Homo sapiens: one gene and its partner. The protein of the gene in region 1 purifies or fractionates together with the protein of each later gene. This does not show direct contact. Each region holds a gene or a part of one and is shown in the gene's direction. Other genes may lie near its edges.

What was found. Proteins that work in one complex are often made in the same cells at the same time.
Region 2: the proteins of WDR62 (region 1) and CEP170 purify together in Homo sapiens (affinity purification with mass spectrometry; 3 studies listed by BioGRID and IntAct, with this or other methods). This does not show direct contact.

What each region holds. Positions count from the first base shown.
Region 1 is NC_000019.10:36,085,896-36,092,918, forward strand, and holds part of WDR62 (WD repeat-containing protein 62), read left to right. Parts: intron 1-791; coding exon 792-917; intron 918-3,142; coding exon 3,143-3,210; intron 3,211-3,289; coding exon 3,290-3,411; intron 3,412-4,549; coding exon 4,550-4,625; intron 4,626-5,304; coding exon 5,305-5,416; intron 5,417-5,506; coding exon 5,507-5,570; intron 5,571-6,793; coding exon 6,794-6,916; intron 6,917-7,023. UniProt on the Homo sapiens protein: Required for cerebral cortical development. Plays a role in neuronal proliferation and migration.
Region 2 is NC_000001.11:243,126,274-243,133,296, reverse strand, and holds part of CEP170 (centrosomal protein of 170 kDa), read left to right. Parts: intron 1-3,843; coding exon 3,844-3,937; intron 3,938-4,996; coding exon 4,997-5,048; intron 5,049-6,558; coding exon 6,559-6,848; 3' UTR 6,849-7,023.

The sequences.
Region 1 (7,023 bases):
TGGTCTCAAACTCCTGACGTCAGGTGATCCACCCGCCTTGGCCTCCCAAAATGCTGGGATTACAAGCGTGAACCACCATGCCCGGCTCCTCAAGATGTTTTCTAGGCTGGGCACGGTGGCTCATGCCTGTAATCCCAGCACTTTGGGAGTTACAGAGTTGGTGGAGTTATATCCTGATGTGATTTTCCCCATGTTCTTCTTTCGTTCTCTCATCCCCCATGCTGTGTGCCCCACCAACTTGTCTTGAAACATATCTTCACTCGGTTCGCCTCTCCTGATCTCCCCTCTGCCTCAGGTCATGTTATTAGGCCTCAGACATAGCAAGTGACCAGAGTAGGGAAGGCTGGTGGCAGATGGGAGTCTGGCCACAGGCAGTCAATAGGACCTGAACAAGGCCCAGGTAGCCAGACCTCAGAGGGTGAGAGGACACTGGTTTTGGAAGAGGCTGAGAGGTTGCCAGGGCTTTACCCAGCACAGACCCAGCAGGCAAGAGCGCTGGGCTCTGCTGGGGCGTCTGCTGTGGATGTCCCTGGAGGAGCGTCCATGCGCCCATCGAGACTCATCCTCCCTGAGCTGGTGGTGAGGAGGTGAAATGCCAGGGTGTGGGGGCTCTGGGAAAGACCACACAGAGCTAAGGGAGTGGCCCTTGCCAGGCTTGGGCCAAGTTGGCTACAGTTGAAGAACCAAAGACCCCTTCTCCGAGGACTGGGCAGCTTGGTCACACTGCCCTTCTGGGAGGCCAGGGCACCCACGCAGCCTTCAGGAACCAGTCTCATTCTCTCCTCTCACAGGGCTGACCTTGCTGGCCTCAGCCAGTCGGGACCGGCTGATCCATGTGCTGAACGTGGAGAAGAACTACAACCTGGAGCAGACGCTGGATGACCACTCCTCCTCCATCACCGCCATCAAGTTCGCTGGTGAGCCCCTTTCTTCCCGCTCCCTGCGCCTTGCTAGCTACCCTGCTAAAAAAGGATTCATTCTTTCAACTCTCCTGTAAAATATATATCCAAACAAGTGAATACAGTATCTGTGTACAGTATACAGAATAATGACTGGGGCCGGGTGTAATGGCTCACACCTGTAATCCCAACACTTTGGGAGGCCAAGGAGGGTGGATCACCTGAGGTCAGGAGTTCGGGACCTTCCTAGACAACATGGTGAAACCCCGTCTCTACTAAAAATACAAAAATTTGCTGGGCGGGGTGTTGTTTCTGTAATCCCAGCTACTCAGGAGGCCGAGGTGGGAGAATTGCTTGAACCTGGGAGGTGGAGGCTGCACTCCAGCCTAGGCAACAGAGTGAGACCCTGTCTCAAAAAAAAAAGAATAATGGCCAGGTACCATGGCTCACACCTGTAATCTCAGCACTTTGGGAGGCCAAGGCAGGTAGATCATGAGGTCAGGAGTTCGAGACCAGTCTGGCCAACATAGTGAAACCCCATCTCTACTAAAAATACAAAAAAATTAGCCAGGCATGGTGGTGTGCACCTGTAATCCCAGCTACTCGGGAGGCTGAGGCAGGAGAATTGTGTGAACCCGGGAGGCGGAGGTTGCAGTGAGCCAAGATTGCGCCAGTGACTCCACTCCAGCTTGGGTGACAATGCGAGACTTTGTCTCAAAAAAAAAAAAAAGAAGAATATAGGCCGGGCGTGGTGGCTCATGCTTGTCATCCCAGCACTTTGGGAGGCTGAGGCAGGCAGATCACCTGAAGCTAGGAGTTTAAGACCAGCCTGGCCAACATAGTGAAACCCCGTCTCTACTAAAAATTCAAAAAAAGTAACCGGGCATGGTGGTGCACACCTGTAATCCCAGCTACTTGGGAGGCTGAGGCAGGAGAATAGCTTGAATCCAGGAGGCCAAGGTTGCAGTGAGCCAAAATTGTTTCACTGCACTCCAGTCTGGGTAACAAGAGCAAAACTCCATCTCAAAAAAAATAAAAATAAAAAATAAGCTGGGCGTGGTGGCCGAAGTGAGTATCCACAGTTCTTAGGAGCAAGGTTTGAACTAGGACGTTGTTGATAGCAGAGACTGTTCTAATTGCTCATGGTCGTAATATTGTTAAATACGGTACTTGGATTCACCACGTGCAGGTTAAGAAGCAGAACATTACCAGAGGCTTGCAGGCCTTCTCTGGGTCCCTCCCAGGTTACCCTTCCTCCCTTATATGGGGCTCACTCCCTTCTGTGAGCCAATGACTCCTCCTTGAGCAACATCTAATACTTGTATGTCAGGCCTGGACCCTCTCAAATGTCCTGTCATGAAGGAGCATGTGTGATGTGCCCAGACTCAGAGTTTTATATTTGTTCTGTCATTTCATCCTCACCAAACTGTTATTCTGTAAAGAAATGAGACGGCCGGGGGCATCTCACGCCATTGCACTCCAGCCTGGGCAACAAGAGCGAAACTCTGTCTCAAAAAAAAAGAAATGAGAATAATAAAAGCAAGAATGTTTCTAATGCTTACCATGTGGCAGTCCCTGTTCCAAGGGCTTCACATCACTCTCCAGAGAAGGAACTGTCACCATGCCCATTGTACGGACCGGAAGTTGAGGCTCAAAGGGGAGGCCCAGGTTCAGAGCAGTGTTTAACAGCTTTGACCTTGGCACCAGAGAATGCCTGGGTTCAGTCCTGCCCCTGTCCTCTCTGTGTGCCTTGGGACAAGGACTCTGTGAACCTCTGTGTTCATGCTTGTCCAGTGGGATGGGTGGTGAGCATTCAGGAAGACCCGCTACATGCATGGGGCCTGGCCCAAGGCTCATGTGGATCTTGCAGTTGATCCTGATGGCACGAGCCTCCCAGCCTGTCTCCACTGGTCGCTGCTGCAGTCCTGCCTCTACTCCGCTACTCAAGTCACCTATCTCAATCCCAGACTGGAGAGGGTGTCCCTTCTTTGTCCCCAGCCTTTGTTTCTCTATATGCCCTTGCTCTGCAGAGCCTGCCTTGGCCACAGCTCCACCTGTGCCCCCTCACACGTACAGCTCATACCTTACAGAGTCCCACCCAGACCCAGCACCCACCTCACCACCTTTAGGAAGCCTTGATCCCAGCACAGTTGATTGATGGCTCTTGCAGTGGAGTTCCCCAGCTAGGGTCCCCTGCCCATGTGGCCCAGCCCTGCCTAACACACAGCGTCCTCCTCCCCTAGGCAACAGAGACATCCAGATGATCAGCTGTGGGGCTGACAAGAGCATCTACTTTCGCAGTGCCCAGCAGGTAGGGTGGCATGGCCTCCTTGGGGGCTGGGGTGGGGGGTTGTCGGGGCATTCTCTGAAGGTCCTGCCGGCCCTGCCAGGGTTCGGATGGACTACACTTTGTCCGTACCCACCACGTAGCAGAGAAAACCACCTTGTATGACATGGACATTGACATCACCCAGAAGTACGTGGCCGTGGCCTGCCAGGACCGCAATGTGAGGTAAGGGGTGGCCCTGGACCCTTAGCTGGCCTGGTCTGCCTTGTCCTAGGCTGTCTGCTTTCCTCCCTCTGTTCCTCTGGTCCCCAAGAAGCTGGGAAGGAATTGAGGGACCCAGCAGGTGTTCCTTCTTGGTTTTTTTTTGTTTTTGTTTTTGAGGCAGAGTCTTGCTCTGTTGCCCATGCTAGAGTGCAGTGGCACCATTTTAGCTCACTGCAACCTCCACCTCCTGGGTTCAAGTGATTCTCCTGCCTCAGCCTCCCAAGTAGCTGGAATTACAGGCGCCTGCCACCATGCCTAGCTAATTTTTTGTATTTTTAGTAGAGACGAGGTTTCGCCATGTTGGCCAGGCTGGTCTCGAACTCCTGACCTCAGGTGATATTGCCCACCTCAGCCTCCCAAAGTGCTGGGATTACAGGCGTGAGCCACCGTGCCCGGCCACCAGCAGGTATTTCTTAGAAGCTGGGCTCTCCCAAGCCTGGCCTCCAGGTCAGCAGAGGGCTTTCTTCTGGCTCTCCCTAGAGCCGGTGTGGGATGACTAAGGTGCTGATGTGGCACATAAACTCCCTCATTCACCCGTATTCCCTGAGCACCTAACTGGGCTGGATGGTGCTGGGATCATGGCAGTGGCCAGGATAGCCCCAGGCCCTCCTTCATGGAGCTCACAGTCCAGTAGAATGGACACGGCCACCTCACAGCCACAGACAGTGACAGAGTGGTCAGAGATGGGGGAGCCCAGGGGCCCTGTGGAGACACCTGACCCCACCTGCGGATCAAGCAGGACTTCCTGGAGGAAGAGACACCTTAGCCTGGGGAGGATGTGGAGGAGCGAGCCAGGGGGAGGCAGAGAGTGAGTGTGCAGAGGGCAAAGCAGTGCAAAGAGGCTCTGCACCCCTTCCCAGTTCTTTCTCATGCGGTGCCAAGCACTGAGCTTGCAGTGTGTGGGGGAGATGAACATTAACTCAGTGGATACCCCAGGACAACCTCAGCTTGAGATGGGGTTTCAGTTTCAGTCTAGGCATCAGATGGGGACAAGAGGTAGCAGGGGGCTTCCAGGGGAGGGGAGGACAGCAAGAGCCAGAGAATGAGGTGGTGGGGTAGGCGGGGCCCTGTTGGCCGCAACATGCCCCTACTTCCCCAGAGTCTACAACACTGTGAACGGGAAGCAGAAGAAGTGCTACAAGGGCTCCCAGGGTGACGAAGGGTCCTTGCTGAAGGTGAGGAGTTGGAGACCCCTGTCTGTCTGCTGCCCTGATGGGCCACCTATTGTGACGGCCCACACCTGAGACCTGTGCCCTTGGTCCTTCCTCAGTGCACCGCGCTGCCCAGCACCTTCTCAGGCCTGGTTAAACAAGGATGCTTGCGAGAGGGTGGGGAGGGTGACCCCAGCTGTGTTTCCTTTATTTACAGAGCCCTTCCCCAAGTGGGGCGTCTAAGTGGGTTCCATTTTGAGTGGCAGCAGGGTATGGTGGGAAGAATCAGAGGCATGAACTCCCCTCCTGGTTTGCCCACACCAGCCACGGGTCACTCAGGACAAGGGGGGACCTTCTCAGAGCCTCTGGTCTAGGACAGTTATGGGTTCAGGTTCTGCCTCAGGCTGACTGTGTGACCTTGGGCAAGCATCATCTCTTGAAATGCACACAGACAGCTTGTCTCATAGACTTGTTCTCTGGAGGAGTTCAGTTTGCACATGTTCAGTGCTTAGCACAGGGCCTGGCTACTGTTGTTACTGCTGCGGTGGTTGTTAATTTCTTCACGTGTCGAATGGGAGCGGGAGCTCCTGCCCTGCCAGAGTCCCATGTGCTGTGCATGCAGCACGGGGGAGGGAGGGGCCCAGGCCTCATCATAAGGAAGAAGCAGGCAGCTGGAGTGACATGTGGGTCCCTTTCCTGGCAGGTCCATGTGGACCCCTCAGGCACCTTCCTGGCCACCAGCTGCTCTGACAAAAGCATCTCAGTGATTGACTTTTACTCGGGCGAGTGCATTGCCAAGATGTTTGGCCATTCAGGTGGGTGTGCCTCTCTGCTTGGGATGCCTCCCCACCCGCCCACACCCTCTGACTCCGAAGGCAAGTGCAGCCTCTCTGCTTTGTTTGCAGAAATTATTACCAGCATGAAGTTCACCTATGACTGTCATCACTTGATCACAGTATCTGGAGACAGGTGGGACATGGACCTTTGGGAGAGTTGTGGCTCAGATACCATGAGCACTGCACTCAGCCTGCCTGTGTAGAGAGCATTTCTAAACTGCCCAGTTTGGATTGTGGGAGTCTTGGTGTCACACCCAGCCCTGAGTTCAAATACCAGCTCTAAGCTGGGCATGATGGCTCACGCCTGTAACCCCAGCACTTTGGGACGCTGAGGCGGGTGGATCACTTGAGCTCAGGAGTTCGAGACCAGCCTGGGCAACATAGCAAAACCCTATCTCTACAAAAAATTAGCCGGGTGTGGTCATGTACACCTCTAGTCCCAGCTACTCAGGAGGGGGAAGATGGCTTGAACCTGGTAGGTAGAGGTTGCAGGGAGCACAGATCATGCCAGTGCATTCCAGCCTTGGTGACAGAGCAAGACCCCGTCTCAAAAAAAAAACAAAACACTAAAAAAACATATCCCAGCTCTGCCATTTATTTTCTTGTCACCTTGAGCAGGTTATTTCCCCTGAGCCTCAGTTTGCTCCCCTGTAAAAGACACCACCGTTTACATTTACCTTAAAAATGGTGTGATGAGGCCGGGCGCAGTGGCTCACGCCTGTGATCCCAGCACTTTGGGAGGCCTAGGTGGATGGATCATCTGAGGTCAGGAGTTCAAGACCAGCCTGGTCAACATGGAGAAACTGTGTCTCTACTAAAAATACAAAAATTAGCTGTGCGTGGTGGCAGGCGCCTGTAGTCCCAGCTACTTGGGAGGCTGAGGCATGAGAATGACCTGAACCTGGGAGGTAGAAGTTGCAGTGAGCTGAGATCGCGTCACTGCACCCTAGCCTGGGTGACAGAGCAAGACTCTCTCAAAAAAAAAAAAAAAAGAAAATTGTATGGTGAGAAATGAATGAGATGATATACATACATTCTTTAGCACATGGGTGGTACTCAAGGAAGTCCCTTTTGTCACTCCCTTTGATTTACCCCAGTTCTTCCCCACAGCCCCCTTCCTCAGGTCTTGAGGCCTCCAGAACAGGCCCTGGTTTGCTGGGATGCCCCAGACCTGGGCCCAGGGTGTGGATGTGGCAAGTCCAGCACCCCTGCACTAAGCGGATAGGGGTGTGTTTTCCAGGAGCATCTGGAGAATGGGGTCCAGGCTGTGGTGTGGGTGGCTTCAGGGTCAGCCACGGCAGCGGCTCCCATGCTTACTCTTCCTCTGCCTTGTGTGTCTCTCTTTGACCTCCGCAGCTGCGTGTTCATCTGGCACCTGGGCCCGGAGATCACCAACTGCATGAAGCAGCACTTGCTGGAGATTGACCACCGGCAGCAGCAGCAGCACACAAATGACAAGAAGCGGAGTGGCCACCCCAGGTCCTGGCAGCCCCTGCCTGTCCACCAGAGGGATGAGTCCCTGCCAGGGCCCCATGGAGTGATGCTGGGGACACAGTGGTGGCCAAGACAGCCCTAGGCCCTGCCCT
Region 2 (7,023 bases), on another chromosome or scaffold:
CACATTTGAGTGTAGAAGGCAGGTAAACAGTTAATTATAGTTCAGTGTGTTAAGGGAAATATAGGATGGTTACTATGGAAGCCCATAGCAAGGGCACTTGGGAAATTCAGAGAAGGGCTCTTAGAGAAATTGCCATGCAATTTAAGTCCTGAATGATGAGGAGAGGAGTTACTCAAAAGCTATGTGAAGTGAAAGGGCCAGAGTATGGTGAGAGATGACACTAGAGAGATGAGGATGGATCTGTTTTGGCAGAATTTGTTAAGGAGTTTGGATTTTATTATTAAAAACCATAGGAAGCTAATATATCCAATATGGGTCCTCTTGATACACCAGTGCTATCTGTAAAAATATCATGAGAGTCTTGTATGGTCATGTGGCTTGCACCTGGAAAACCCTGGAGTCTCCTTACCTGTAAACAAGTACACAGTGTTTTTTCATCCTACCTACTGAAATACAGGTCCGTCCCTGCTAACTGGAGTCTTAACCACTCATTCATTTATTCAGCAGATGTTCACAGATTACCTGCTGTGTACCATTCTCTTCCTTACCACGGAGCAGCTTTCCTACGTTCTGTAGTCTCCCCCAAAGAAAAATATTTTTTGTAGCTTTGACATTGAACTAAAATTGAGAACAAAGAAGACATTGCTGATGGATTGATAACCTGTGTTGTCTCAGAAAGTGACAGAATTTATAAAGTTTAAAAAAGGATGCATAAAAATGCCTCAATAAAGTTATACATAAATACAGAATGTTTAATGTATTTGAATTGCCTTCAGTTCGAGTGTTGAGTTTTACTATGCATAAAGCACTATGGCAGGCTTTATGGAAGGTAATGAGGATAAAACCATTTCTATTATTAAAGAGTTTCCAGTGTAGTTGGCAAGGTGAGGCACATATGCAATCAACTGTCGTACAAGATAGCGTATAATAGATTAGTGCTCAGTTAGAGATATAAAGGCAAAGGAAGGATCACTTTCACCTAGGAGGTTTAGGGAAGGCTTTGGGAAGAAGATACTATTCAAAGGTAGGTCTGAGTTGTGATAACCAAACCTAAGGGGTAGAGACCTGGGCCTTCTGCGTGGAAAGTGCCAGGGTAGTTTGAGAATCAACTGGTCTTTAAGCTTTGTGTCAGGAGTTATAACCTCAAATGTCTACTGGGGTTCATCCTAGAGGCATGCGTACTTACATTGTATGAACACTGTCTGTGGAATCCATTTTTAAATATTTATACAGGAACTCCTGTTGTACAGCATTCTCATTGCATTCCATGTGAAAATGACCCCCTTAGGTTGTGTAGCATGGCCTTGCATTGGTAGACTCTCAATTCGCAACTCCGCGTTCGCATGTTTTAAGGGCTAGTACTAGGGAATTGGTTATGGCTCATAGAATAGGAGCCTGAGACTTCTGTTTGTTTCCCTAAAACCAATGGCTTTATCAAAAGTATTTTAACTTAATTCTTAAATTATTGAATGAAATAAGCTTTGGAATTTTATGTATTTTCATGCTGAAGTTTAGCTTATTTTGAATCTATAATATAATCTGAATATCACTTTGAAAGCTATGATTTTTTCAGCTTAAAATTGATAAGGACCTTCAAACAAAAACAAGTTCTGGTCATTATAGCCTGGTCTAAACTAATTTCTTGGTCTGGTTTTCTGATTCTCTAGTATTTAAATATTAAATATTATAGTAAATATTATAGTAAAGTTTATTTCATAATGCCAAAATGACAAGTTTGACTTCTTAGATCTGTTCTATTATATATTACAAATTGTTTTTTGTTTTTTTGTTTTTTTGTTTTTTGTTTTTTGTTTTTGAGATGGGCTGGAGTGCAGTGGCATGTTCACAACTCACTCACTCAGTGCAGCCTCGACCTCCCTGGGCACAAGCAATCCTCCCACCTCAGCCTTCTTAGTAGCTAGGACTACAGGCATCTGCACCACACCTGCTAATTTTTTTGTATTTTTTATAGAGACGAGGTCTCGCCATGTTGCCCAGGCTGGTCTCGATCTCCTGGCATCAAGTGATCCACCCACCTTGGCTTCCTAAAGTGCTAGGATTACAGGCATGAGCTATTGTGCCTGGCCAACAAACTGTATTTTAAAATAAACCATTTATTTCTTCAGGGGGGCATTTTTTTTTCAGGGGCAACCCGTGAAAAACCCATTTTCACCAAAGGTGAAATGTCTATGGTTTAACAGTTTTAGATCCACAAACACTATACTCAGTAGCCATCCTCTGGAAAAATTCACTGAATTTTTAGCACTGTGTGGCTAAACAGAGTCTTTCTCTATTGTATAAGTCCATTACAGTTCTAAGCTGGTCCATGAAATAGTCATTATTTCCTTATTTTCCATCAGTCCTAATGCTGCAAGGACTCTTTTACAAGAACATAATAATTTAGAAAAGATGGCTGGCAAGGGTGTTCATTTTTTTGAGTTTAGAAAATTTAATAAGTAGGCCATAAGAATATTCTTATACCAGATTCTAGACCCGTTGCCACCTTAAGCAAATGTTCCAGACTTGATGTGATGTTAATGAGTTTCATGTTTTTAAATAAGGTAAGTCTGGCATGTTGATCTTTGAAGAAATACCAGCACAAATATTAACTTAGTTTACTACTTAAATGCTGATCAGCTTGCAGTAGTAATACATTTACATGAGGTTATATAGTGTTGTTTAAACTAGATTTCCAGGCTTACTGAAAAAAATTTAAAAGAAACCAAAAAAGTAGCTAGTATTTACATCTAAGACTGCTGAATCATGTCTGATAGACTCTAAAGTGTTAGAAAAGTGTCCCACATTTGAAAGACACGTCAAAATTTTGTGGTCCTTTATTTTATAAGTTATTTGATGTTAGGGTAATGATAGGATAATTATCTTTATTGGCAATTGTTTTTATCAAAAGGGTAGCATCCTAATTCCTAATAGGTTATTATGTGCAAGTATACTAACACGAATTAACAATTGTTAAAGAAAAGCACAGTAAGTACTCCCAATTTTTTGTCTTCAAAATAATATACACACTTTTCTTGATCGATAAGGTGCTTATTCCCATATAAAGAGGTCTTAACAGACACAATTGTTTATACCTAATTCAACCTATTTTCATCTCACTTATTCCTATACTGCATATATTCTGTCTGAATAAAATTGCATTTTCTTTATAAGTGACAGTTACACAGTCTTTTCTCCTTATACCCAGGTGATACATGTTGTTCCAAGATACCCACTGGATGCCTGACACCACAGATAATTCTAAAACCTAATATACTGTGTATTTTCCTACACATACATGCCTATGATAAAGTTTAATTTATAAATTAGGCACAGTAAGAGATTAACAATAGTAACTAATAATAAAATAGAACATTTGTAACAATATACTGTAAAAAAAAGTTATGTGAATGTGGTCTTTTTTTTTCTCTCTCTCTCTCTCCCTCTCCCAAAATACTGTAATAGTTACGGACCATGCTTGACTGCCACTAACTAAAACCATGGAAAGAGAAACTGTGGATAAGAGGGCATTACTGTATTGTAAATTATAAATATTAAAGTTTTGAGGTCATAACATCATTTACATTTGTTTTATATTTTGTTTTCAATAAAGAATAAGATAAACAGTAAAGAATTTATGCATGTATTAATAAGCATTCAATTGGAGCTCATACACATGAATTAATTGGTACTGTTGGCTTAGTATTTTAATTCTCAGTTTATGCGGTGGTTGGTTTTTTTTCTTTGTGTACCTTTGAAAAGATACATTGCTTTGGTATTATTAACAAAAAAGTAATAGGTTTTTAAAATATAAAAAGTTATATGCTTATGTTTTTTGATTTATAGAATATTATTTAAAGACAAAGATCGGAATTGGGATGACATAGAAAGCAAATTAAGAGCCGAAAGTGAAGTCCCTATTGTGAAAACCTCAAGCATGGTATAGTAATTTTTCTTGAAGATTAAAACATTTTAATAGAGTTTTATTTTAAGGAAAAGACCCTTATTTTTGAGCTGTTCGTTGATTTGCTTTTTCAAAAGAAGATATAAATGCAAAATTTTGGGAAATTTTATTTCTTCTACTGACTCACAGGTTTAAAATGTTGATTGTTTCAAAGTTGCAGAGGGTATGAAGGAGGAGCCTTTTGTGTTTCTTACTAGTATAGATTGTTCTTGTAATAATTAAACATTAGAAACATGAAATTTTTAAAGAGAACCAAATCTAACATGAAAATATTAAGTTGACATAAGTCGTTTCCGTTTACTTAATATAATGCTTATCTTCTTTTTAAAAGAATTTGTACAGATTTTCATTGCTCAGAATATAATTATAATATTGAGGTTGCAGTTTATATGTTTTTACAAAGATAATTTGAAGGCATTTTTACATAGTTATTGCAAGGTTGATTAATAAGAATTTTAAAAATCTTTGCGGCCGGGTACTGTGGCTCACGCCTATAATCCCAGCACTTTGTGAGGCCAAGGAGGGCGGATCACTTGAGGTCAGGAGTTGAAGACCAGCCTGGCCAATATGGCGAAACTCTGTCTTTACTAAAAATACAAAAATTAGCCAGGCATTGTGGCGGGCGCCTATCATCCCAACTCCTTTGGGGGCTGAGGCAAGAGAATTACTTGAACCTGGGAGGAGGAGGTTACAGTGAGCCAAGATTGCGCCATTGCACTCCAGTCTGGGCGACAGAGTGAGACTCGGTCTCAAAAAAAAAAAATCTTTGCTTAAATAGTAGTAAATGTTAAACTTTTCATCTGCTACAATCATCTCACTGAAAAAGTTATTGTATTTCATTTTAGTTTAAATATTTTAATTTGAATCTTGTTTGCTAGATATCATAATTATTTCATATCATGTTGCTATTAATGTAGTAAGTACCATGTAGATAATATTAAGTGTTCCAAATAAAGTGAGAGTGAAATTCATTGCTTGTAAAGTGATAACATTTAGCTAAAAGTAGGCTAATTTTTGTTATTGCTTTCCCTGCAGGAGATTTCTTCTATCTTACAGGAACTGAAAAGAGTAGAAAAGCAGCTGCAAGGTAAATTTACTACTGAATTAAGTATAAAGAGCTAATAATTTAGAATAAGTGCCTTCTGAGTGGTATTTCTTAAAATATTGTTAGGATGTTATTTGATTAAATGTAATGACATACATAAAATACAGAGTTCAAACATTCACATTATTCATAAAAAGGAATTTTTTTAAACCCAGTATAAAAATTTAAAATGTAATAAAGATATATGTTGGGCATATTTTAGTTCATAGGTTTGACAGTAGGCTAGATGTCATAAACTAATTGAAATTTTTTATGTATTACATATAAATAATATGTGAAAAATATATAATAAAGTTGTGTTAATTAGCATTATTTGTGTGATTTGACAGTTCTTAAATTATGTTGGTGGTGTAACCTGAAACAAACTTACATTCTAATAGAAATAATAGTTGTTTGGTTGACAAGAAATGAGTACATATTGGCCATAGAGACCAGAAGAGAAAGGAGAGAAGAAAGTGAAAGAGGCTGCCCTCTAAACTTGTCAGAGCTGGGCTGTGCATTAATGCCTATGTATGTCTTGACCCAGAAGTCCCCAGTGGTACAACAGGCAGGTTCCATAGTCAACTGCTAATTCTACTGAGTCTTTATCTATCGAATAATCATAGGTACTTATGTGGATCCTATCAAAATGATTTTTCATCTTTATTTAGCCCCAACACACCTAAGGGTTATGGTACACCCCATGAGTAAAAGTGGCTTGCTAACACAGTGCTTGTTAGCTGGTAGACTGGGGGTATACTTTTAAAAGTCCCTTCTACATGATTCTTACATCTATGTTACTTCCTTCTCCCAACTCCCTACTCTGCCCAATGCCAAATTGAAAATCACCGCCTGAGAACTTTCCATGTCAACCCAAAGATCTTTTGGACTGAAAGCTGACCTTTAACTGACCCCTTCCATATAGGCAGCAAGTCTGTTTGGCTTTGCAAGCTGCCCTGTGATATTAGTCTGTAGGCTCTGAGGGAACCCCTGTATCTCAGTGGTGTATACAGCTGATAACCCTAGCACTCTGGCCAGGCTAAATGACCGTATTCTATGGTAGCATTCAAAGTATGCTGATGTTCTTCTGGCCTCTCCAGCCTTGAGGTTACTCTGAACCCTGACTTAGCAGCTAATACCTCAGTTATCTGAGTGATGTGGGTTTAGATGTTTATTAAAAATCATATTCAGTATTTTCTCGGTCCTCTCACAATAATGAAGACAAATTTCAACAAGATTTTTCTTGAATTCCACATCTTCAAATACCAGACTTACAAGTCTCTGAAATGCCCGTAAGTGCCACATCAAAGGACCCAGAGAAAGTATTCAGGGCTGGGTGATTTACAGTACAGCTACAGAATAACTAAGAATGGAGTTTTAAATATAATATTGGAAGATTAGCCACATTTAAGATCACATACGCACTGATAGTTTAAATATTATCCAAATCATGAACAGTGTTTATATGTGAATGTAACTGCATCTAAAATTATTTCCTTTTCCCGCCCTTTAGCAATCAATGCTATGATTGATCCTGATGGAACTTTGGAGGCTCTGAACAACATGGGATTTCCCAGTGCTATGTTGCCATCTCCACCGAAACAGAAGTCCAGCCCTGTGAATAACCACCACAGCCCGGGTCAGACACCAACACTTGGCCAACCAGAAGCTAGGGCTCTTCATCCTGCTGCTGTTTCAGCCGCAGCTGAATTTGAGAATGCTGAATCTGAGGCTGATTTCAGTATACATTTCAATAGATTCAACCCCGATGGGGAAGAGGAAGATGTTACAGTACAAGAATGACTTTCTCTTGATTGTTGAAAAATCATTACCTGTGGAATGGCTAGGAATATTGGAAGCAGCATAGTGTTGATGTACGCAAAACAAGACAGCTTGGTCAGCTACAATCTTGGAATCCCTGTCTTCTTAATTTTATTTATTTATTTTTGACGTATAATGTAGTATATCAATCCTTTCA